Linked DNA regions of Homo sapiens: regions 1, 2, 3, 4 and 5 are each linked to region 6. A link means that fine-mapping ties the variant in region 6 to the plasma level of a protein whose gene starts in the linked region. Region 6 holds a variant in brackets. A gene starts in each other region. All regions are shown on their forward strands.

The links. PIP is the chance, under the fine-mapping model, that this variant and not a neighbour inherited with it causes the effect. The UK Biobank Pharma Proteomics Project read protein levels with antibody pairs (Olink). The fine-mapping took linkage between variants from a reference panel, not from the people measured, so its PIPs are less certain.
Region 1: it holds the start of RBFOX3, and the variant in region 6 is fine-mapped to the plasma level of the RBFOX3 protein (UK Biobank, PIP above 0.99).
Region 2: it holds the start of PSIP1, and the variant in region 6 is fine-mapped to the plasma level of the PSIP1 protein (UK Biobank, PIP above 0.99).
Region 3: IRAG2 starts here. The variant in region 6 is fine-mapped to the plasma level of the IRAG2 protein (UK Biobank, PIP above 0.99).
Region 4: it holds the start of TCOF1, and the variant in region 6 is fine-mapped to the plasma level of the TCOF1 protein (UK Biobank, PIP above 0.99).
Region 5: ZBTB17 starts here. The variant in region 6 is fine-mapped to the plasma level of the ZBTB17 protein (UK Biobank, PIP above 0.99).

What each region holds. Positions count from the first base shown.
Region 1 is chr17:79,609,192-79,613,276 of GRCh38, forward strand. It overlaps RBFOX3 (RNA binding fox-1 homolog 3), which reads right to left and starts at 1,860. Exons shown (of 15, transcript NM_001350451.2): 1 at 1,635-1,860.
Region 2 is chr9:15,509,219-15,513,290 of GRCh38, forward strand. PSIP1 (PC4 and SRSF1 interacting protein 1) reads right to left here and starts at 1,752. Exons shown (of 16, transcript NM_033222.5): 1 at 1,599-1,752; 2 at 899-1,111. The coding sequence starts at 970. RefSeq lists enhancers at 865-1,818, 1,819-2,771, 3,424-4,042 and silencers at 878-1,077, 1,178-1,227, 1,358-1,417, 1,428-1,637, 1,658-1,737.
Region 3 is chr12:25,050,435-25,054,519 of GRCh38, forward strand. IRAG2 (inositol 1,4,5-triphosphate receptor associated 2) reads left to right here and starts at 2,272. Exons shown (of 22, transcript NM_001366544.2): 1 at 2,272-2,522. RefSeq lists enhancers at 1,627-1,736, 1,777-2,146.
Region 4 is chr5:150,355,179-150,359,263 of GRCh38, forward strand. It overlaps TCOF1 (treacle ribosome biogenesis factor 1), which reads left to right and starts at 2,519. Exons shown (of 27, transcript NM_001371623.1): 1 at 2,519-2,676. The coding sequence starts at 2,569. LOC105378226 (a long non-coding RNA gene) reads right to left here and starts at 2,242. Exons shown (of 4, transcript XR_944407.3): 1 at 1,328-2,242; 2 at 390-492. RefSeq lists an enhancer at 1,537-1,706 and silencers at 2,307-2,646, 2,727-2,946.
Region 5 is chr1:15,974,340-15,978,424 of GRCh38, forward strand. It overlaps ZBTB17 (zinc finger and BTB domain containing 17), which reads right to left and starts at 1,762. Exons shown (of 16, transcript NM_003443.3): 1 at 1,644-1,762. RefSeq lists enhancers at 626-735, 1,627-2,126 and silencers at 1,156-1,485, 1,526-1,625.
Region 6 is chr10:113,585,867-113,589,951 of GRCh38, forward strand. HABP2 (hyaluronan binding protein 2) reads left to right here. Exons shown (of 13, transcript NM_004132.5): 12 at 1-72; 13 at 2,339-3,736. The coding sequence ends at 2,503. NRAP (nebulin related anchoring protein) reads right to left here. Exons shown (of 42, transcript NM_198060.4): 41 at 3,800-3,931; 42 at 2,848-3,213. The coding sequence ends at 3,109. Among named protein-coding and RNA genes, the nearest start is that of HABP2, 35 kb to the left of the region's middle. The variant G/A (reference allele first, on the strand shown) is at 2,421.

The DNA of each region.
Region 1 (4,085 bases), not on the chromosome of region 6:
TTTTTTCCATTATGTTTTGCAGACCAGTAAAACCGAAGCCGGCTTCCGGCTGAAAGACCTCATTACGGGCGACCCCACTCCATTAGCCTCCTACCTGCTCCACGCTAAGTGCCCGGGGCGCCCGGGTGCATGCCCAAGGCGTCCCCGAGTCCAACCTGCGTTTGGAGCAGGAAATTAGCAACCTGCGCGCCCGAGAAGCGACTTCACCACCAGCTGGGGCAGGAAGGGGGACTTAAACCCAGGGATGGATCCCTTGGGTCTCTGTCCTTAGCCTCCACCGTGGGGTGTCTCGCGCGTCGGGACTAGCGGCTCCGCGGGACTCCTTTTTAAAAGTGATCATTAAATAAATCAGGTACCTCGCCAAAGCTGGAACGGAAAGGGGAGGGGGAGGCAGCTCTGTTGTCCAGGAGTTTCTCCCCACCTCGCTGGGCCCCCGCCCCCACCAGTGGACTCCGGGAACATCCCACCCCCACCCTACGTGATACCAGGGATCCCAGGGCCGCTTGGGGACCCGACAGGTTCCCAATGCCCCTCCACGCGGGGCGCCGCGTCTCGGTCCCCGCACCGACACTGCAGGGCTGCGCGCCAGGGGAGGCTCCGCGTCCCGGGGAGGGAGGCTGCGACCCCCAGCACCAAAATGACCACTGGCCTCGCGCCACCCCGAGACGCCACAGAAGACCACCTTCCCGAGCGTGCGAGCCCAACACGCCCCGGGCGAGCCCCACCACCGCCCGGGGCCACCAGGGCAGAAAGTTTGGGCCAGGGGCGTGCCCGGCTTTCCCAGCCCGGCCGCGCTGCTCGAGGCCCTGGGGGTGGCCGAGGCTTCAGAGAGGCAGCCTCTGCTCCCGTTCCAGCCTTCCTATCGTGCTTGGGGACTCGGCCCGGAGCGCCCCCAGCCCGCCCCCTGTAGGGCCCTGCGCGCCGCTCGCCCCTCGCTGCTCGGCCCCCGCGCACACCGCGGTGCTGCGGGCCCCGCTCCTATTTGGGGAGCTGTGGCAGCCCCTTCCTCCCCACAACTCCTTTGGGTCATCAACCTCTCAGCGACCCTCCTTTCAGAGGACCCCGGCAGGGCTCTCTCCGGGCCTGGGTGCCGCGACAGACGCACGTTGCACCACCGCCGGGTCGCCAGCCTCTCTCCCACCCGCGCGGGCTCCGGCTGCCTGCTCGGACGCGCCCCGCGGGGCCGGGATCTCCGCGCGCCTCTGCCTCCCCCCGCCGGGGAGTTCCCCGCGCCGGGCATTGTGCCGCCGCCGCCGCCGCCACAGCCACCACCACCGCCACCGCCACCGCCACTGCCACCGCCACGCAGCGCGCGGGACTCCCTGGCGTCTCCATGGAGCCCGACCCCCGGGCCTTCCCATTCACAAAATCGCCCCTCTGGCCCACGGCCGGACAGAGCGTCCAGACCCCAGCCCCGGAGGGACCCAGGGACCCCGACCCCGCGCAGGGACCCCTGACCCCGAGGGCGCCACCCCACCCCACGCGCCCTCGGGTCAGCCCCGGCCGCGCTCAGCAGCCCGCCTCCCACTGCGGGGTCCCATGCGCCCCTCCGCGGCCATGTCCCCCTCCCCCAGCTCAGCCCGATGGGAATGACCGCCGCAGAGCGAGGCGGGCGACGAGGCCAGGCTACTCACGGGCTCAGCGCTCCCCGCGGCAGGTGACTGGGGGCCGGCGGCCATGCCCCGGCTGCATCCCGGCCGCCGAGCGGGCAGCGGCGTCCTGGGGCCGCACAGGCACCGGCGAGCCAGCGGCAAGGGGCGCGCGAGGCCGGGCTCGGGCGGCAGCTGTGGCAGCTGCTTCTCCTCCGACCACGCGAGCTGCTGGGGCCCGGCTGGGGCCGCTGTCCGAGGAGGTTCTGCTGGCTTCGGAGCAGCCCCGCGCTCGCTCTTCCCTCGCCTCCTCTCTCTCTCTCTCTCCTCCCTCCTCTCTCCGCCCTCCTTCTCTCTCTCTCTCTCTCTCTCTCTCTCTCTCTCTCTCTCTCTCCGCCCTCCTTCTCTCTCTCTCTCTCTCTCTCTCTCTCTCGTTCCTCTGGCTCGTTCGGCTGGAGCGAGGCGGCAGCAGGAGCACGCGGCGGCGGCGCGGGCGGCGGTGGCAGCTCGAGCGGAGCGCGCAGCGCGCGGCATGGGAGGGGGCTCTGGCTGTCGCGCGGCCGGGGAGGGCGGCGGAGCGGGGAGAGCCATGACCGGGTGGGCTTCGGCGGTCAGCACCCTGCAGCCTTCAGCGCCAACTCCTCGGGGCAGGGGCACAGAAGAGGTGGGGTACACACGGAAGATCCCAGAACCCAGTGCTGCCCTGGTCCCTTCAAGGGCAGCCCCAAGCCCGCTGCCCCTCCCCACCTCCAAGCTATCTTGGGGGCGGATCAACCCAGGTGACCCTTAACAGGACCCCTGCCCTTGTGCCTCGCTGTCCCTGGGGGCCATTTTTCTTTGCCAGGCCCAGGGATCCCCAGCAATGGGACGTGGTCACCAAGCATCAGGGACGAATGCCACCCCACCCCGCATGCCATGCCATGCCTTTGAGTTGCCCACATACCCCAAACCCCCTCACTAGGCCCAGGTGCCCTGACTTCCTGGAGGACCACTGGAAAGGAAGGGATCGGGCCCACTCCGTGCTGTTAGTCCAGATTGGCCAACCCAACCCATTTAAACATTTCCACCTGTGCCTGGCTGGAGAGGAAGGACTGTGGGAGGTCAGCTTAGGATTTCCCTAAAATCAAAAGATCAGGTAGCTCCTGTCCCCAGTCCCAGCCTCCCCCAGCATCTAGAGTAAGGGGCCTGGTGTGAGTTCTGGGAGGGTCTCTATCCTTGGTGCAGAGGGAGCAGGAGAGCAGAGGCTGAGGACACAGTGGAGTGGGGACCCTCTGGAAAGGCAGGAGAGATCTATTGCTGGGGTCAGCCCACCACTGGCACACAACACCAGAAGTGGGCAAGAAGGTCTGGACGGTCCCAAACAGGTTTAGGCAGGAGGCTGAGTAATCATTTCCAAAACAAAAGACATTCTGGTGCAGCAACCAGGCTGGAGAAACGAGCCTGCACCATCGAAGGACATTTCCAAATTACACACAAACAGATCCAAACCCGTCCCCATGTCACTTTTGCTCCTGAAGGCTGCTCCTGGAACAATTAGCCTCCTCCTCGCACCTGACTGTCCTGCTTTTCTGTGTGAGGTGAAAAGCACATCATGGAATCTGGGGTTTGGTAGGGGCCTGGAAGACCCAGAGGCCAGGAAGAGGGGAGTATGGATTTGGAGCTTCTCGGTAGTAGGGGCTCTGGGCTGCTGGCTGCCCCCCCTGCAGGGCAGCAGAGACGGTGGCCAAGACAGTGGCCGCTGCCCACTTATGAGCGTCATGCTTTTAATTTCTGGCCCTCCAGCCCGTCTGGGTCATTGATCTGTCTTGGCCGGTGGGAATCGTGTTATACAATTCCAAGCATACAGCTAAACAGCCCCACAGCTAACCACCAGATAAATGCCGTGTCTACGAGCAAGGCAGCCGCCTGGTTGACTGAACTTTCCCCTGCCACCGGATTTGAAATGGCGCATTCCAGCTCTAAAGCCCTAATTGGGCCTCTTGGTTCTCTGCTGTCAGATGGTCCAGGCTTTCGTGGCCTCCAACTCCCGGCTGGGCCCAGCCACTGCCTGGCAGGCACCTGTCTCCCTGCAGGCAGGGCTCTTGCCTCGCTGTGCCGGCAGTGCCCCCTGTCGGTCCCGCTTGTCCCTTGCCCACATTTCTTCTCCCTGGGGAGCCTTTTCCTCTCTGGTCCAGACCCTACTGCCCTTTGGAGCCTCCTCGCAGAAACCTCTCGAAGAGTGGGATTCGAGCCCATCTCCGTCTCCCTTCAGCTCCCCATGCGAGTTCTGCATGTGCCTGTGAAGTGGGGACACATTGACCTGGCAGAGCTGTGTGCCCGAGTGGAAGAGGGGTCCCTGCAAAGCATAGGGCCCGGTAAATCATTCCTTGGGGACGTTCTGGAAGAGCTCTCTGAAGACAGCACCAAATCTTGTTCCAAGTTCCACCAGTCCCAGCCCAGGACTCAGGACACGGTGGGCCTGCTCAGACGCCCGGGTGGTAAACTGAAATTGGCCTC
Region 2 (4,072 bases), not on the chromosome of region 6:
TTCAGAACCCCATGTAAGTATATTTTTAAAGGATCTTGAGTTTACCTAATCTAATTGATTGCAACATATCTTAGGTCCTATCTATCTCTGTTTGAGAGCCTGGGTACCACCATAAACAAAAAGAACCCTTTTTCTAAAAATGGAGCGTAGATCTTTAAACAGTCTCAATTCCTCAATGTCACAAAACATCCTGGGTCCTTAATCATTTCTCTGTACCACTAGATGTGAACTGAGGAATCTGGTCCACACCTCCTTTTTGCCTATTGGAAACAAAAAGGTAAAACAACTTCTTCAAGGTCATAAACATCTCAAATAAAAAAGGAGAAATGAATTTTCTGGCCCTTCCTCGGTACTAAACTACTGTAATACTTTCAAGAATATCCAGTCCTGAATCTGTATTAAACAAGCAAATCCAGAAGGCCTCATCAAGTACAAGGTATTTTTTTTAAAACCCTGTAAATCCAATTTAATCACATACGCACTTCTCTGACATCCAAGTGTTTGTGTGTAATCTGCACAAATTCCATTGATATTTTGTACTTGATCCAAAACTATGGAAATGTCAATGTTTCACTAATTTTTAAACAAAAATTCACTCTTCATTATTTCACCTACAATGGAATATTAACTAGCAACGCATTTAAATATTTCCTAGGAAGAAAATCTGTCCAAGTCTGCCAATAAACCATAGGGAAATACACAGGTATGTAGAAACGTCTGGATTTTCATAATTACACGGGAGATTATTGGGCAAAAAACTAAAATGAAAGGTCAGGTTACAAATGAGACTAAAGCGAGGGAGAGAAAGGACAGAAGAAAAAATAAAGAGACACGGTGGGCAGCAGGCCTCTGGAGAGGAGGGTAGCACTGCTAAGCGCGAGGGCTACAAATCACTTACTCGAGCTGGCCAATGGGGATAACCTTTCATCTTGGCGAAGATGAGGTCTCCAGGTTTGAAATCGCGAGTCATGTTTCGGGGGCGAGACCGGGGGTCCGAAGCCCGGGAGGCGGCGAGGAGATGCGGCGGCGCGGGGATGCGGGCGGCGGACGCGGGCCCAGCTACCGGGCCCGCGGGCGGGGGAGGATGCCTCGGGGCGTCCCGACGCGCCTGCTAGGGAGAGCACCGAGGGCGGTTAAAGCGAAGAACCCCGAAGGGAGGGGCCGCAAGGGGAGGGGGAGGGGAACCGGCGGGTGGGGGTGGGAGAGCGAGGGGACGGCCGCCTCCCGCTCCTCCCCCGCCAGTGCGCTGCCTCCGCGCTGGAGCAGGTCCTCCACCCCGCCACCGAAGAGACGCCACCACCTGAAGCAGGGATGCTGCCCGGCCAGAAATCGCCCGTCTGCCCGCCCCATCTTTCTCCGGGCTTTTTCCACCGAGCTTAAGCCCCAAAAGGGAGGGGGTGCATGGGAGAGAAAAAGGCAGGGATTCCGAGAAGCGAGCGGCCCCCTTCCGCCCACGCAAGGCCTCCCCCGCAACCTGCTGCCCAGCGGCTGCAGCCTCGGCCCCCTCGGCTCCCGGGCGGGCCGCGTCCACTTCCCCGCTACAGCCAGGAGCGACGCCACCGAGGGGGGGGCGGGGCGAGTCCCCGTCGCCCGCTCACCTGCCGGGGCCGCGGGCGCCGACGCTGCGGTTGCTGGCCGGTCGCCTCTACCCGCGTCCACGCAAGCCACCTGCGCCACCAGCTGCCGCAGAGGCGTCTCAACGGCTCGGAATCGCAACCGCGCCGCCGCTGCCGCCGCCGTAGCTGCGCTGCTCCCGCGCGGCTCCCGCTCGGCGCCCGCTAGCACTGGGGCGCGACCAACTGTTTACCGAGAGAGGGGGGATGTTGCAGCACCCGGCGAAGCTGTGTGGCTCCGAAGCGGATTTTCTGGAAACCCTACGTCCCCAAGTTCGCTTTCATGTAACAGGTGCATGCAGATGGAGAGGAAGACGCAAGCGAAGAAGAAAGGACTGGGCGAAAATAGCTCGGCCTGCCGCAAGTTCCCCCTGCGGTTTGCGGAGTGGTCGGGCCCGGCCCGCCCCTGCTGGCTTCTCTGCGTGTGTGTATTTGTATGTGTACTGTATGTAAAAGGCGGGGAGGGAGGAAATGATTGTTGTGGACGCGGTTTTGGGGGCGGGTATCCGGGCCTCTCTCCCTTGGCTGCGTGTTAGGGAGAAAGTGGCAGTAAAGATTCATGTTCTTGTATCGTTTCCAGGGTGGGGAGGTTTGAATGCTGCTTTTGCGCGGTTTGCATCATCCAAAAAAGAGGAGCTGTACGAAAACCCTAAGATGAAATTGGAGCATGCGGCGGTTGCAGGGTGTGCTGCATCTAGGCCTCTTGCACCTCGCTGAATGGGCCTCGTAGTCTCCTTTTCCTTGAAATTGTAGTATGAGAGAGCCCTATTTCATTTCTTTTGCATTTGCATCACCAAGAACTATTAAGAAAAATGCAACCCTACTGAATGCAAAATGCGAAGGGTAGAAAACAATGACAGGAAAACAGAAACCTTTTAGATAGGATGTGAGTTTGGGCCCTAACTAAATTTTAGCTGCATCTAAATTTTATTTCCCTAGTAGAATAGGAGCTGGTAGGTGGTACAATGTGTAAGTGTTACTAAACCTCAAATATTTTCTCTCTTAAAATGCTCTTCAAGGGATTTTAAAGGTTAATTTTTTGATCCTTTAGAGAGGCTGAAAATATTTTTAAAAAGAATGTTAAGACATATAAAAATAAGAATAATAAGACATATATTAGCACCTAGATAATACTGTTTTAAATACGGGACTCAACTGGAAATGAATTAGGAAATTTTTTTTGAATTGGTAAAAATTGAGAATTTTTTGAAAGCGATACAGCATGTCTTTAAAAAGGAATGAAAGAAGACAGTCCCAAAGTAAAATGTCCTGTAAGGAGTTTCGAGAAACTAAGTATACCTGGGCAATATGCAGAGAGTTCCAAGTGGAGCAAAAAGAGAAATTGGCAGAGGAGAAGGAAGGGTTGGTGAAATGTCTTGAAGCTTCTCATTCTGAATATGAATTTAATGTGTGTAGTAGGAAGCTACTATAGGTTGCTCAGCAAGAAGGGGGTAAAAATGATTATTTAACCAGTTCTTGATGTTTCAAGGTAGATGTTAGTAGAAAGAGGCTGGGGGTAACTGGAGTACTCATGAAATGACGCATTTCTCAGTGAGAATGGTGACTAAGAAAAGGGAAGGAAGAGCACAACTAAGTAATTACACAAAGGAATGATTGTCAGGTGTTGGCTATAAATTATGCATAGGAAAAGGTGGAAAAAGATGTATTGAAGAAAAGCTCAAGATACAGAGTAAGAGAGACCAAAGCAGCATCCAGCAATCATTTTTTTGTGTGTATGCACTTTATTTGTTCTAAACCCTGTAAGGCCTTGCTACTTCAAGTGTGGTCCAAGGCCCAGCAGCAAGGGCTTTACCTGGGAGCTCAGGTAAAGCTCAGACCTTCCCCAGGCCTTCTAAATCATAATCTGCGTTTTAACAGGATCCCTAGGTGATTCTTACGCATATTCAAGTTTGAGAAACTGCTTTAGAGGATACCTCAGACTGTAAAAACTTCAAACTAAGAAAAACAGATATATAACAAGTTATAATTAACGTTAAAGATAACTTTTTATTAGTACTAATGGTAGGATTAACAGGTAAAGAGGGGGTAGTTAGTGTTAGAGGGGACCTCAGAAAAGAAATAAAAAAGGGAAAATGGAAAAGCATTGATGTTTTACTATTAGTATTTTCTGTTGTTTTTGTTGTTTTAAAAAAAGGAAGTACCATACTTAGCTCCTGCTGCCTTTAAGTTTTGTCCGCTTCAACCTGTGGTAGTTTGTGAACAACAGGAGATACCCTTTAAACAATAAAGGCAAAACAGGTGGTGGTTTAAGCTTCCAGAGAACAAAAGCCCAGGATCCCTGGGAGCAACAGTTCTGAATCTGCGAGGAAAGGGGGGGGGAGGGGAGGGGAGGGGAGGGCAGGGAACGGGGAAGGAAAGCTGGGCACATCCTAGCCACTTGGGAGAGCTTTTCTGTGCTCTTTTCCAGCTATGCTTGGTGCAGCCCTCTCCCATAGTCA
Region 3 (4,085 bases), not on the chromosome of region 6:
AGGGGAATCGCTTCAACCCGGGAGCCAAAGGTTGCAGTGAGCTGAGATCGCGCCAGTGCACTCCAGCCTGGAGACAGAGCGAGACTCCGTCTCAAAAAAAACAAACAAACAAACAAACAAAAAAAAACAGTTACAGAGTTTTCTCAAAATATTAAAAATTAAACTACCATCTGATCTAGGAACCCCACTTCTGGGTATTTATCCAAAATAATTAAAATCAGCACCTGGAAGAGCTATTTGCATTCCCATATTCACTGCGGCATTATTCTCAATAGCCAAGATTTGGAAACAACCTGAATGTCCACGGATGATTGGATAAAGAAAATTTGGTATATAAATACAAGGGAATATTATCCAACCTTTAAAAAGAAGGAAATTCTGCCACATATGACAACATAGATAAACCTGGAGGACACTATCCCAAGTAAAATAAGTGAGTCACAGAACAACAAATACTGCACGATCCCACTTCTCTGAGGTATCTAAAATAGTTAAACTAATAGAAAGAGAGAGAATAGTGGTTGCCAGGAGCTAGGGGAGGGGAAATGAGGAGTTGCTACTCAATAGGTATAAAGTTTCAGTTATGCAAGATGAAGATGTTCTAGAGATCTGCTGTACAACATTATGCCTGTAGTTAATAATACTGTATTGTACACTTAAAAATTTGTTAAGTGGGTAAATCTCCTGTTAAATGTTCCTGCCACAGTTAAAGAAAAAGAGAGAAAAAGAGAGTGAGAGAGACAACGATAAGCTATTGAAGGACGCTCAGTGGAAAGTGTGGTGATGTAGGCAGTTTTTATTTTTGCTTAGGATTTTGTTTGCTTGTTTACCAGTATGGTAAGCATTCTGTGAGACCATTCTTGCCTCTCATGTGGTCCTTCGTGTAACCAGGGCTGGATTTGTGCCAGTGTGCAGTGGCATTCTGACTAAATGTTAACGTTTGAGAGGCATGCACAAGGCCTACGGCTGACAATGTCTTCCTTGCTGTTTTGCAACTCCCGACATTTATCACCACTTTGAGTTAAGGTCCATATTCAAGTCAGATTGTTTCCAGATAATCATTGAGGTACTGGCATGTAACACACATTAAATAATCTCATCTGCTAACAGAGAGTAAGTGCATTTTTACATGTTTTAGAGATTAGAATTGGATCCAAATGAGGTGTAACGTAATGGCACCATGAGATCTGTGGTGGGGAAGGGTGATGGGGAGAAAAGCTTCAGCAAAAAGAGGACTAAAGTAGAAATATCAACCGCCAGCTTTCATCTGTGCCTGGGGGCGGTCCTTCCTGTGCTCGTGGCACGTGTTTATACTATGATTGACAACCCTTAAGGAGAAAGGCTAAGGTCATGAAACAAAGCTCTCTTTCCTTTTCTTTTCCCTCCCCCTACCTTTACCCCATTCCTTTCTTTTTCTGTAAAAGCTAGCTGTGATGTGTAAATGTTGCACCTGTCACCCTGACCTCATTGTAGAGCCATCTTCTGAGTAACTGGCAACTGGCAACTGATGCTAAGTGCTATGAATGCAGCTGGTGGGAACTGAACACACCAGTGTAAAAGATGAAACTAGAAGTCCTTATCTGTAAAGTGAGGGTGTCAGGCTAAGCGACCAATAAGCTTTGCTTAAGATTTTATATTTGTGAAGCATTTATATGTAAATACTTTCACTTTTTCCTCTGATCTCTAAGGAAGTGGTGTTAAGTTTGAGTTTGTCATAATTTCACAGGGTGACTCTTAGTTGAAATGTCACTGACAGCTTGCGGTTTGGACTTTTTTTTTTTTTTTTTTTTTTAACTCCAGTCAGAAACAACTAGAAGCCATTAAACAACTACAGGAAGATGCTGTCAACCAGGAAGGCATCCTTAGGAAGAGGCTCCAAGAAACCAGCCAACGGCTGGAGGATGTGGAGGAGCAGGTAGGGTGGCTCATGGCTACATTAGATTCAGGGGACATCTCCTCAGATGCCCTGCAAACCATGAAATAAAAATGGAGGAGGAACAACAACAACAAACAAAAAAAAAAAGCAAAGAGGAACTGCAAGTTCAGTCCCTAGCGACTAACAGTGAGCAGAGGAAGTAAAGGGGGAGTTGTAAGAGAGGCGGTATCAACAGCCTGCTGATGAAAGAGGCGACTCTGCAGAAAGAGGCAACTTGACATATCAGGACTTTAACCGCTGTAGAAATAGCTCAGGCATACCAAGCCCATGCAAACACAGAATTGCAGAAGTTCAGGAGAGGCTTATCACTTCCCTGAGAAGAAAAACACATTTTCAGTTTTGCCTGCATCATAAGAGTGAGCACTCCATTGCTTTCTTTCCTGGCCACACTGCTACAATCCAGCACTAACTATCCATGTCCAGGGTAAGGATCGAGATCGAGAAGCCCACACTGCCAGTGAAAAAGCTACGTCTTTACTGCATAAATTAGAGGAAGCAATTTCGGAACAACGGAACCTTCAAACTATAAATACTGAATTATCGAACACTTGCCAGGCACTTCAGCAGAAGACAAGGAAACTGAAGAGTGAGTAGCAAATATTCATTTATGACCCAGTTTTTGTCCACCCTCAGGCGGGGCATAGGACTACAGACATTTTTCTAGATTACAGCTAGGATATTATTCCTGAGTTTATGACAATGAAATGGTTTGAGAAGGCAATATTGTGGGGCTTTCAGAGAGGTTTGCTGAGTGGCTAGGTGCATGCATGGGTTTAACCATTAACTTCCCTTTTTGCCTTTTTATTATAAGCTGGTTTTGTCTGTGGCTGTTTTTTTCTTTTAAAATTAATTAAAACTTCTCAAAATTTCTAAAAGTAAACAAGGAGAAAAATCTAGTATGCATGGTATATTTGAACTTGCAAGTTGTTATATATTATACTCTGATTTTATTAGCTAGTTTTTTTCCTCTCATATGGTAGAAAAGGCCTTGCTCGTCTATTTTCTTTGGAAATTTTAGGGGGTTGGGCAAAATAATTATGAATTCAGTGTATATCAAAATATCAAATGTGTGAAAATTCTTTTAAAGTTTTAATGCATTCTCTACATACATCTACATACATATTTTGCATTTTAAAAATTGGAATATTTGTCATTTTTCTGTATTACCCAAAAGTATATAAACAGTTACCAGAGATTTATGTGAGAAGACAGTTGTCACATTACAGATGTCAGATTAGCTATAAAATTGTTTCATTCTAGAAACCTAATATGGTAAAAATAAACCTTACTTATTTAGCCATTTATCAGACAATTGCTTTTGTTCAGCCAGTTTCTTGTTCTAGCAGTATAAATATTCTTTTTATAGAAAGTTACTTGGTTTGAGAAATAAACATTGTTTATTTGTTAATTGTTATATAATTATAAATAATTATATATTTAATATATAAGCTTAAGGTAGGCTAGAGATGAAAAATTTCAGACTTGTGTTTGTTTTGGATTTATTGTACCCTTTCTACTATTATCTGAGAAAGCTATTTAGGAGTTTAAGAAATAGTCTAGTTTTAAAATAGCAATGGTTTGCCGGACACAGTGGCTCACCCCTGTAATCCCAGCATTTTGGGAGGCCGAGGTGGGCAGATTGCTTGAGCCCAGGAGTTTGAGACCAGCCTGGACAACATGGTGAAACCCTGTCTCTACAAAAATTACAAACAAATAAATAAATAAAACATTAAAATAGCAGTGGTTATTCAACATATTATTGTCATAATTTTTAAACCTTTATTGAATTTGCCAGTTTTCAATATTCTGATTCACTCTGTTAAGCTAGTAAGGCAGTCTTTAAATTACACAGTCTGTGTGTTATTTTACTACTGCTCAGAGGGCATTGGAGAAGGTTCCCTTGTGATTAGAACTGTTCATGTTGAGACATGAATCATAAGGCATTCCAAAGTTGGTTTAAGGTGTGTCTGCTTTAGACACTGTGCCCAGGACTATTCTTTTGCTCCAGTTTTGCCTTTTGATTAAATCAATATTATACCTGAGTTTTATAAACTACTAAGAATTTGTTCCCCTTCCTCACTGTGATTTTCTTGCAGTATTTTCTTAGAAGAGTCAACTTTAATAACTTACCCCAAAGTGCACGTTCTTG
Region 4 (4,085 bases), not on the chromosome of region 6:
AGCTCAAGATGTCTAACATAGAATATATACTTTCACCTCTCTGTCCACATCCTCCTCTCCTCAATCAAACCACCCCCCTGTCTCAGTCCTCTTCTAGTTTTTTCTATCTCAGTGAAAAATACTGCCTACTTGTTTGCACAGAAACCTCAAGGTCCATTCTGACATTGCCTTTTCCTTCCCCTCCCATTCCAACACACCTCTGTGAAAACTTTAGTTCCTGATTAACTCTGGGAACCTTCCACTCTCTTCAACTCCACTGCCACCAGCACCCTCCCCGCTGCCCCCGCCACCTACCACCCGCCCCCCCCCCCCACATACACTGTCTTCTCCCTGGATGCCTGCCTGCACTCCTAACCCTGACTTGTCTTCCCACATCTACTCATACCCACCAGACACACTCCACTCTCCACTGGGCAGGCACACAGGTCACAGTAAAATTCAGATTTCATCCTGTACCTCTTGGGCTTACACCGTCAGTGGCTTCCAATGGCTCTTAGGATGGAGGAAAAAAAACCCTGATGTGGCCAATCCTTCACATGGAGTCTGCCCTCTGCCCACCTTCTACACTCCCCAGTCCCCCTGCTCTCCCTCCGGACTATGCTACAAAGGCCTTTTTGTGTCTATTCTCTCAGCTGTACCTTCTGCCCTAGGCCCTTTGCACAGGTTCTTCCCTCTGCTCAGGTTTCTTCTCTCTGACTCTCCCTTACACACAGTTCTGGTTTCCTCATAACCATTAATTTCTCAGGGAATCCTTCCCTAACTCCCAAGAAAAAAATAGATCCCTCCTTCCTGTTATATGCTTTCACAATAATAGCACACACGCACACAGAGAGCGCTATTGTTCAGAGCTCCTCTAAGCATTTCTGCTGAGAATTCATTTACTCCTTATGACAACCCAGTGAGGTAGAAATTATAATTATCTCCATTGTACAGATAAAGAAACTGAGTCACAGTGACTTGCCCAAAGTCACCTAGTTAATGAGGCAAAGCCAGAATTTGAACCCAGGCAGTGTGACTCCAGTGCAGCTTTTAAACACTATATTATTACATAAGAAAACACTATCCTTTTCCTTCCTGCACTTACCCGCTGTTTGTAACACTGTATTGTATGACTATTAGTTTAGTATGTGTCTCCTCCGTTAGACTGTAAGCTCTATTGGAGTAGAGACAATTCCATCACTAGACTGTAAGCTCTATAGGAGTAGAGACTATTCCATCCCCAATGGTAGGTACTCAATAAATATTTGCTCAAGAAAATGGGAAATGTTGAATGTGTACAGACACATAACATTTTCCATTCAAGTTCAAGACAAAGATAACCACATACCTGGACCTCCTAGGGTTAGGGACTCCTGCGCCCGTAAGAAACATGCTGCCCTCAGATTCTCAATGGGTCGGTGAAGTTAAGAACAGCTCACTCTAACATTCTCCAGCCTACCTCACCTTTTCCCTGCCATCCTTCCCTCAACAACTACAACAGCCTCACATTTAGTATTAATGGTATGTGCTTTGGTTTTAGCAATCTTTTAAAAACACAAAACAGGGTCAACCTCCTCGGAAAAGCCAGTCAGAGACTATCTAATGCCCTCAGAGCAAAGTCCAAACTCTGTTGGGGGTGGGGGAGTTGTAGGCCTTGTCTACTTCTTCATCCTCATGTGCCCTCATTTGTTCCCTCTTCCCCACCTCACCCCACCCCACCTGGACAGCCCAGCAGCGCAGACTAGGGGTTCTGGGTTTAGGGTTCCCAGGCAATAGCAGGGTGTTTTCTCATGCCTAGACTCATGCAGTGCCCTCTGCCAGTCCTCTCCTTTGCACCCAGCAATTTCGGGTGTCTTTATGCCTCAGCTTAGATATCTCTCTGGGGTTCGGTGCTCCTCCTTGGGGCGCCCATAGGCTGCATCTGTCCCTGACAAGGCACACAAGATATTGAACTATAGTTGCTTGGTTACGGACAGTCGTCTCTGTGAGCTTTGAGGGCAACTGCCATGTATTATGCATCTTTTGAATCCCCCTAGCCTAGCCGGGTGCTAGCCCAAGTTAGGTGCTTATTACAGATTTGTTCAGTTAGCGAATGAATCAATGAATAAACTGGCAATTCGTGTCTGGTTCATGGGCACCAAAAACCGTGCGAAATGGATAAATGAGCAGGTAATGGCAGTACAAAGTTCGGATCTAGAGAAAGATCCAGATTAGGGAGTTCAGAGATGAGTAAAACGCAGACCCAGCCATCAGAGAATTAACAAGGAAGATAAATCTCTTCAAGAAGCCAGCCGGAAGGATTAAAAGAGAGTCGTCCAAGTCCCGGCCGGCCCCGGGGGCGGGTCCCTGTCTAGCCCCGCATGCTCCGCGCCAATGGGCGGTATTGTTGATCACGAGTCTCCGCCCCCTTCGCCTTGAGGGGCGGGGCCGGCCACTCCCGGAGAGGGGACTACGTTTCCCGGCGCGCCGCGCGGCCGGAGCGAAAGAGGAGCCGGAAGTGTGGCGCGCGAGGTCTAAGGGCGCGAGGGAAGTGGCGGGCGGGGACTAAGGCGGGGCGTGCAGGTAGCCGGCCGGCCGGGGGTCGCGGGTATGGCCGAGGCCAGGAAGCGGCGGGAGCTACTTCCCCTGATCTACCACCATCTGCTGCGGGCTGGCTATGTGCGTGCGGCGCGGGAAGTGAAGGAGCAGAGCGGCCAGGTAAGCGTTCGTGGGCCGTGTGCGAGGGCCGCGTGCAAGATGTGGAGATCAGCGGCCCGCGGCCCGCGCCCCGTCCCCAGGCGACCCGGCAGGCGCCCGGAGCCGGGTCCCGCAGTGCTCGACGGCGCGGCCAGGGGTACCGGAGGAGCCGCAATCTCTGCCTTCCCACTGCGACTTCAGTTCCCCTGGGCCTCACTTTCCTCATCCGGGCAGTGGGTTGGGCCAGAAAGTGTGCTCGCAGGGGCCGAACTTTGTAATTCCCGCTTCCCTTACCTCCACGCCCTTCCTGGTAGCGGGTATTTTAAGTTTCCTAAGTCTCCCGCCACGTGGCTAGGCTCTGCGCGGCCCCCCCTGGGGCAAGGAGGTTGCTGCGAGTCTCGGGGGTGGATTGCGACCAGCCCCTCGGGGGAGCGCCTGGAAAAGGGACCCTACAGCCTCTTAGTTGAGCTGGAACTCAGGCCTTTAGCGATTGTCTGTACTGAGACGGTCAGCTTTGGTACTCGAACTCGTGGTACAGTCATTTCTTACTTGATTAATTCAACTGTTAATCCGGTACTCAGGGTGCTTCCTGGTGTTCGAATGGTGAGCACCATCTCTCAGCCCTCCTGGAGCTTACACTCTAGTAAGGTAGACAAATCAAAGAATCACAAAAGTGACTATATGCTTAGCACCGCAATAAGTGTTAAGAATGAGAGGGATGGGCCGGGCACGGTAGCTCACGCCTGTAATCCCAGCACTTAGGGAGGCCGAGACTAGCGGATCACCTGAGGTCAGAAGTTCGAGACCAGCCTGGCCAACATGGTGAAACACCGTTTCTACTAAAAATACAAAAATTAGCTGGGCATGTTGGCGCACGCCTGTAATCCTGGCTACTCATGTGGCTGAGGCACAAGAATTGCTTGAACCCGGGAGGCAGAGGTTGCAATGAGTCAAGATCGTGCCACTGCACTCCAGCCTGGGCGATAAAGCGAGACTCTGCCTCAAAAAAAAAAGAGAGATGGATGGCAGATTGCCCTGGTCAGGAATAGCTGAGGTGTAAATGCCTTGTGGTGGGAGGGAACTTGTGTACACACTGGCCTGGAGAAAGTCCACTCTCTTGAGCCCAGGAATTTGAGGATACAGTATGAGCCATGATCATGCCACTGCACTCCAGCCTGGGCAACAGAGCAAGACACTGTCTCAAAAAAAAATTTTTTTTAAGTCCATAGCAGGCCAGGTACGGTAGCTCACGCCTGTAATCCCAGCACTTTGGGAGGCCGAGGCAGGCGGATCACTTGAGGCCAGGAGTTCAAAACCAGCCTGACCGACATGGTGAAACCCTGTCTCTACTAAAAATGCAAAAATTAGCCATGCATGGTGGCATGCACCTGTAGTCCCAGTTACTCGGGAGGCTGAGTCAGGAGAATCAC
Region 5 (4,085 bases), not on the chromosome of region 6:
TTTTTTTTTTCTTTTAATAAAGATGGGGTCTTGCCATGTTGCCCAGGCTTGTCTCAAACTCCTGGGCTCAAATGATCATCCCACGTTGGCCTCCCAAAGTGCTAGAATTACAGAGTAAGCCACCGCACCTGGCCACAGATCTGATTCTTAAATGGCTTCCCATTAACCTAAAGTTTAAAGTCCTTAACTAGGTTTACAACGTCCCCTAAGACCAGACCACAGCTTGCTGCTGCTTTTTTTTTTTTTCTTTTTTGAGACGGAATCTCGCTCTGTCGCCCAGGCTGGAGTGCAGTGGCGCCGTTTCGGCTCACTGCAACCTCCGCCTCCTGCGTTCGAGCGATTCTCATACCTCAGCCTCCTGAGCAGCTGGGACTACAGGCGCGCGCAAGCACGACCGGCTAATTTTTGTATTTTTAGTAGAGACGGGGGTTTCACCATATTGGCCAGGCTGGTCTCGAACTCCTGACCTCAAGTGATCTGCCCGCCTGGGCCTCCCAAAGTGCTGAGATTACAAGCGTGAGACAACGAGCCCGGCCCAGTCTGCTTCTTTATTTAGCCTGATCTCTCTCTCCTCTCTCTACGAAGATGAGTTTTCTCACAAACTACACCCTTAACTGGGAATACCCGTTTTCCTGCCTCACTCCGCTGAGCTTCCCTTAGATCTTAGCTTTCTGGGGGACAGAAGCCTCCCGGGATTCCCCCTAGGCTGAGTGATGTGTCTCTACTCCGTGCTTCAGAGGAAGGAGGGCTTTCTGCCCTCGCAGCAGTATCAGAATTGCTGATTTACCTGTATGTCTCCCACATGGGTCTCTGAGCTCTGGGTGACAATGGTGATACAATTAATAACAGCAACAAACACACAGCATTTACTTTGTACCCATAAGTGTTCTAGGAGCCTCATTTCCCCTTTATTACAATCTTAGGAGGCTGATTTTATTATCATCTCTGCTTAAAGGATGAATAAACCCAGGCAGAGAGAAAAAGCCAAAAGTGCCTAAGGTCACAGCAGGGAATGGGGATTCAAACCCCGCTGCTGGGCTCCACGGTTCACACTCCTAACTCCAGGATCGAGGATCCTGGAGGATCGAGTCCGCCCGCATCACTCGCTCTAGCTTCACCATCTATCAGGTGCTGAACCACCGTCCGCAGTACGAATGAATGAATGAAATGCTTTTATACAGGGACAGCGTCGGCCTCCTCTGTCAGCTCCTCCTAGGCCCGGGCAGCCCCGCTCCCTCCCGCCCCGGCCGGCCGACAGGAGCTGCCCCGGCACTGCGCTCCCTCGCGGCCGCAGAACGCCCACCCTCGACAGCGCGCGGGGTCAAGGGGCGGTGACAGCCGTGCGGCGGGGGCGGAGATGCTACCAGCTGGGGTGTCATCCAGCCCGGGAGGTGACACGCGCCCCCTCGCCCGGGCGGTCGCCTGGCCGCCCACTCCCCGCCAGCACGCCCGGCGACGCCCCCCGCCCCGCCACCCCACAATCTCCCGCCCAGCGGTGTCCCCTCAGCCCCGGTTGGCGTCCCATTCCACTTCCCTCCCCTCCCCCACACAACCGTCACCGGCGTCCCACCGCGCCCCATCCTCCGCCGCCTCCGCCCCGGCTCCCGGGACTTCCCCGGCCCCGGGCGATTGTTGACACTCACCTGCCATGTCCCGGACCCCACCGCAGAGGGAGGTGCATCACGGCCGCGAGAAGGCCGGGGACGGCACTCCAGAGCAGACAAAGGGCGCCGCCATGTTAGAGTCGGGCGGAACCGACCTCGCAGGCTTCCCGGCTGCAACTTCCGGCGCATGCGCAGCGTCCTCGCTAGGAGAGCGCCCATAGACAGACGCATGCGCCTAGCTATCCAAAAGTTCCACCTTACAGTACTTCGGCGCTCAGAGTTGTCCTCATTGTACCCCTGCCTTGGTTTCTCTTCCAAATATAACAGTAACATCATGTGTTCAGCTCTTACTGTGTGCCAGGCACTGTGTTAAGCGCTTTACATGCATTATCTCTTTAAATCCTCACACCAATTATAAGATAGTATTATTCTCCTAATTTTAAAAAAGGGAAAACAGACTCAAAAAGTGTAAATCAATGTCCATGGTCACATATCTTGTAAGTGGTGGACCGGAGATATGAATCTACTTGTGGCTTCAAAGCTGCAGATCCCAGTTGTGTTTTTCTACCTTCTAAACCGAACATTATCCCCTTCCCTGATTGTCTTGGACGTGAATAAAGGTGTCTGAAAACAAAAGTGTCTGCAGACTTGCATGGCCCCTCCGTGGCCCCTCTTCTACCTTTTTGGTAGCTCTAGGCCACTGACTTCTCCACTTTCTCACAGTCTGAGGGCTTTCTCCTTTGTTTACTTCTAGGCCTGCATATTTTCCATAATCTATAATTTTAACAACACTCTTGCCACTACTGTAAGCTCTTTTGCCCCCTTGCCTTTTTGTCACATGGATTTGGTAAGAATACCAACGCTGTGTGAATCCAAATGCACCTTTTCTCTTTGTTAGCTCCCAAACAGCCAAGCACAGCTGAAGAAAGTATGCAGTGGGGAGACTGTTCCCTAGAGATTCATGTCCACTAGCCTTCAGTGGGATGCAACATATGCCAATCTGGCAACTCACTCCTGTCTTCACAATGGCTAGAGAAACAAAAAAGCCCAGCAGTTGACTTCACCCCTTCTTGTCTTTAGGTTTTTTTTTTTTTTTTGGAGACAGAGTCTCACTCTGTCTTCCAGGCTGGAGTGCAGTGGCGCTGTCTCGGTTCACTGCAAGCTCCGCCTCCCGGGTTCACGCCATTCTCCTGTCTCAGCCTCCAGAGTAGCTGGGACTACAGGCGCCCGCCACAACACCTGGCTAATTTTTTGTATTTTTAGTAGAGACGGGGTTTCACCATGTTAGCCAGGATGGTCTCGATCTTCTGACCTCGTGATCCACCTGCCTCAGCCTCCCAAAGTGCTGGGATTACAGGCGTGAGCCGCCGTGCCCGGCCGTCTTTCTTTTCTTTCTTTTTTTTTTTTTTAGATGGGGTCTCGCTATGTTGCCCGGCTGGACTGAAACCCCTAGGCTTAAGCATCCCATTTCAACCTCCCCAGTAGCTGAGACTACAGGCATGTGCACCCACAACTGGCTAACTTCACCCGTTCTTTTTAACTATATTTTTAATTTTTATTTCAGTAGTTTTTGGGGAACACATGGTGTTTGGTTACATGGATAAGTTCTTTAGTGATGATTTCTGTGATTTTGGGGGACCCATGACCTGAACAGTGTACATTCTACCCAAGGTGTAGTCTTTTTTTTTTTTTTTTTTTTTTTTTGAGATGGAGTCTTGCTCTGTTGCCCAGGCTGGAGTGCAGTGGCGCCATCTGGGCTCACTGCAAGTTCCGCCTCCCAGGTTCACGCCATTCTCCTGACTCAGCCTCCCGAGTAGCTGGGACTACAGGCGCCCGCCACCATGCCCGGCTAATTTTTTGTATTTTTAGTAGAGACGGGGTTTCACCGTGTTAGCCAGGATGGTCTGGATGTCCTGACCTCGTGATCCGCCCGCCTCGGCCTCCCAAAGTGCTGGGATTGCAGGCGTGAGCCACTGCGCCCAGCCAACCCAAAGTGTAGTCTTTTATCCCTCACCCCTCCCACCTTTCCCCCTGAGTTCCCAAAGTCCATTGTGTCATTCTTATGCCTTTGCGTCCTCATAGCTTAGCTCCCACCTAAAAGTGAGAGCATATGATATTTGGTTTTCCATTCCTGAGTTACTTCATTTAGAATAATGGTCTCTAGCTCCATCCATGTTGCTGCAAATGCCATTATTTCATTCCTTTTTATGGCTGAGTAGTATTCCATGTTATATATATATACCACATTTTCTTTATCCACTCGTGCATTGATGGGCATTTGAGATGGTTCTATATGTTTGCAATTGTGAACTGTGCTGCTACAAACATGCGTGTGGAAGTGTATTTTTCATATAATGACTTATTTTCCTCTCTGTAGATACCCGCTAGTGGGATTGCTGGATCTAATGGCAGATTTACTTTTAGTTCTTTAAGGAACATCCATATTGTTTTCCATAGTGGTTGTGCTAGTTTACATTCCCA
Region 6 (4,085 bases):
TATGACCACATGATTGATGACAGTATGATCTGTGCAGGAAATCTTCAGAAACCTGGGCAAGACACCTGCCAGGTCAGAGACTCCAAGTGGTGCTTGTGGTAGGAGAGGCTAGCAGGATGTTTCACTAGGCAGAGGACCCTTAGAGCCCTGGGCTGGGAGCTAGGTTCAGAGGTCCACCTGTGGTAAAGCTAAGACACAGGTGAGCTGTGTCTGCCCCCTGGCCCTCTGGTGCATCTGCATCCGCATCAACCCAGGATGACTCAGCATAATGACCACAGAGGTCACATTGCCTGCACTGTCTAATTTAACTCTCACAACACACTGGTGAAGGTGATGTCATGATCACCATTTTACAGATGCTTAGAGAAGTTATCTTGGCCTATAGCAATTGGGTGGCCAGTGGCAGGGCTGGGATTTGAACAATACAGTCTGCAGGACACCAAAGGGGCTTGTGGCCTCAGTGTAGGGCAGCCTTTCTGAGAATCCCAGTAAACAGGGAACTGTCCAGAAGACCAGTGGCTAGAAGGAGAAAGAAGAAGGCCTAGAGCTAGAGATTTCACAGTAATATTAACTCATGATTAGGACTCATGTGTGCGTGTGTGTGTGTGTGGGGGGGGGGGGGGTGTTTTAGCCCTAGAAAACTAAGTATATCTGTAGCCTAGGGCCTTTCAGAACTCCAAGTTGCTGAGGCTTGTGACTCAGAGACACTGTTGCAGAGAGAGAAGGTGGTGGCTCCATCAACCAATGCTAAAGTGACTTCAGGCCCTGCCCCAAGTCAAAGCCCATTCCCCATAGTCCCTTTATCTGTAGGGATCACATCACACAGGGTCCTTTCTAGAATCCCAGGAACACCTCCATTTAGAATTTTCTGACTGTTGTCCCCATAAGCCTTCTAAATGTCCTGGAAAACAGCATGCCAACATTCAAATCCCAACTCCTTCAGGGAGCCTCCCCGTACAAAGGAACCCACAATGATTTGCTGGCCTTGAACTCACTTTGGGATGGGACATCAAGGTTCCTCTCTCCAGGGTTTGTGGCTCTCCTGTGACTATCTGTCTCTTCCCAGTGAGCCAAGGATGTTCACCTACTCAGAGGAGGGGCAGATGGGTGCAATTTGCCCTAAACTCCTTCCCAGAAGATGGTTAAGAAAACAGCTCATTCAGGCTGGGCATGCGTGGTGGCTCAAGCCTGTAATCCCAGCACTTTGGGAGGCTGAGGCGGGCAGATCACCTGAGGTCAGGAGTTCAAGATCAGCCTAGCCAACATGGTGAAACCCTGTCTCTACTAAAAGAAAAATACAAAAATTAGGTGGACATGGTGGCACATGCCTGTAGTCCCAGCTACTGGGGCTGAGGCAGGAGAATCGCTTGGACGTGGGAAACGGAGGTTGCAGTGAGCCAAGAGGGTGCCACTGCACTCCAGCCTGGGCAACAAAGCGAGACCCTGTCTCAAAAAAACAAAAACAAACAAACAAAAAAAAACCTCATTCAATTCCCTAGATAATTGAAGGCTTTCACTTGCAGGCTTTGGAAACAAATAGTTGTGAATTGAAACCTGTTTCTGTCTCTTACTGTATGGCTTTTATCAGTGATGAAAGCAATTCTTCAATCTCAGATGCCTAAACTATAAAATGGAAATCTATCTATAAGATCACAAGGTCGTGGCTAAGTTTAAAATAGAGAATTCATTTTTTAAAAACCTGTCAGTTGTAGTGTTTAAGCAGTATTAAGTTTTTGAGAGCTATCACCCTCAATGTCTTCTTCTCCTCACCATCATCATCCTCGCCACCTTCCGTGAGGGTTTAATATGAACCAGGCACTGTTCTATATACTTTACAAACAATCTTCACAAGAACCCTGGGGGATGGGGATCTATTGCTATCTATGGTTTACAGTGTGAGAAACTGAGGCCTAAGGTCACATGCCTGGCAGGTGGTAGGGCCTGGCTTAAAACCCAGGAGATCTAACCCCATAGACCATGCTGAGCACCTAGGCCACGCTGCCTTGGAGTCCCCAACCTCCTCCCCTATGTGTGCTGAGGGCCCCCGAGAACTCACAGTCATAACATCTGCATCACTGAGAGTTGGGAAGTGCAGCTGTGCGGCTCCTCTGTTAAGCCCGCGTGGACTCAGGGACGGAGGACACTGTTATCTTCTCTCCCTTAGAGTCTTGTATCATGTGAGATGTGGGGAGAGCCTTGTCACTGCTTTCCAGAGAAGCCCACGGAGGCTGGCAAGGGACTCCACCCCATCCCTCCCTGACACCCCCTGGAGAGAGGTGGGGGCATCTCCAGATGTCTCTGGTTCACGAGGATGAGCTTATGCCTCTGTTTCCCTTAGGGTGACTCTGGAGGCCCCCTGACCTGTGAGAAGGACGGCACCTACTACGTCTATGGGATAGTGAGCTGGGGCCTGGAGTGTG[G/A]GAAGAGGCCAGGGGTCTACACCCAAGTTACCAAATTCCTGAATTGGATCAAAGCCACCATCAAAAGTGAAAGTGGCTTCTAAGGTACTGTCTTCTGGACCTCAGAGCCCACTCTCCTTGGCACCCTGACACCGGGAGGCCTCATGGCCAACAATGGACACCTCCAGAGCCTCCAGGGGACCACACAGTAGACTATCCCTACTCTAAGCAGAGACAACTGCCACCCAGCCTGGGCCTTCCCAGACCAGCATTTGCACAATATCACCAGGCTTCTTCTGCCTCCCTTGGTAACCCAAGGAATGATGGAATCAACACAACATAGTATGTTTGCTTTCCTTACCCAATTGTACCTTCTAGAAAATCAGTGTTCACAGAGACTGCCTCCACCACAGGCATCCTGCAAATGCAGACTCCAGAATCCCCAGCATCAGCGGGAACCACCATCACATCTTTATTCCTCAGCCCAGACACTCGAGGCACTCAACAGAATCAGCCATCCACGTCTAGGTATCAGAGAGGACCACAAATACAACATTCTCCATCTGCTTTCAGAGTTATTATTTTAATAAAGGAAGATCTGGGATGGGCTGGTGGGCCATTCCAGCTTGCCGAAATCAAAGCCATCTGAAGCCTGTCTCTGGTGAACAAACTTCCTCTCTGGCCTCTCAGGAATCAGGGTGGACATGGCTCACAACAGCAGGGCCTTCTTCTTTTTGACGTGCAGAATCTCAGTGGCATCTGGGTTCACCTCCCCACTCTGATGATCTCCAGCCTCCACTGCTTCTGCCCCCCGCTGCTGAAATCAAACATACCCCAAGTTAAAATGAAGCTCCCCCACCCCCACTCCCGGCCCCGGTTCCCACAGGACACGCTAAGAAGCACAGGGAGCATTTAACAGGCTCACCCTCCCTTTCCTTTTCCCCTCTTCTACCCTCCCCAAGAAAAAGGGCCTTCAAGGCAGGAATGAGAAAGCAAAGCCAATCTCTCATTTAGACCTGGCTTCTTTCTTCTGAACAAAGTAGGGTTCAAAATGCAGACTGTCATATCCAGCGAGTCCCTGACCCTTTCTGCGAATGTAACGAGCAAGCAGTCAGCACAGCCTGGGCTGCCCTGGCCCGGGATTGATGTAGCCCCGGTAGGTTTGCCTCTGCAGAACTAATGGCTGTGACTTCAGAGAAAGCCCTGCAGGAAGTTTAACCTGCGTGTCATCTGCCTGGTCATCTCAGACCCATGAAATTAGGCGCCTTGTTTGAGCTGCGTTTCACACTTCTTTAGAGCTAGCTGACCTTTGGCCAAAAATAAACTTTGAAAAGAAACAATGAGTTTGTCTTTCCCCATGGCCTTGCAAGCCAGGGGTGGCTTTGCAGCTTGCTACTCACGTAAGCTCCCTGGAGACCCAGGCCCCTTGCGTTGGCCAGTTCCGCAGCCCGCCGAGCCATTTCCACTTTGTAGGAGCCAGGAGGGGTCCAGCCAACACCTCTGGTCAGGTTCAAGTCTGATTTATACTTGACCTTGAGGGTAAGAGGGAAGCAAGAGGAATATGTCAGCAGGGTTTGGAGCGGTTTGACCATTAAGTAAAGAAGATTAAAAAGGCAGCCACAGTATGAGACTATGTTGTCTGTCATCAGTAAAGCCAGAACAAGGGGAACAAATTTATCATAAGCA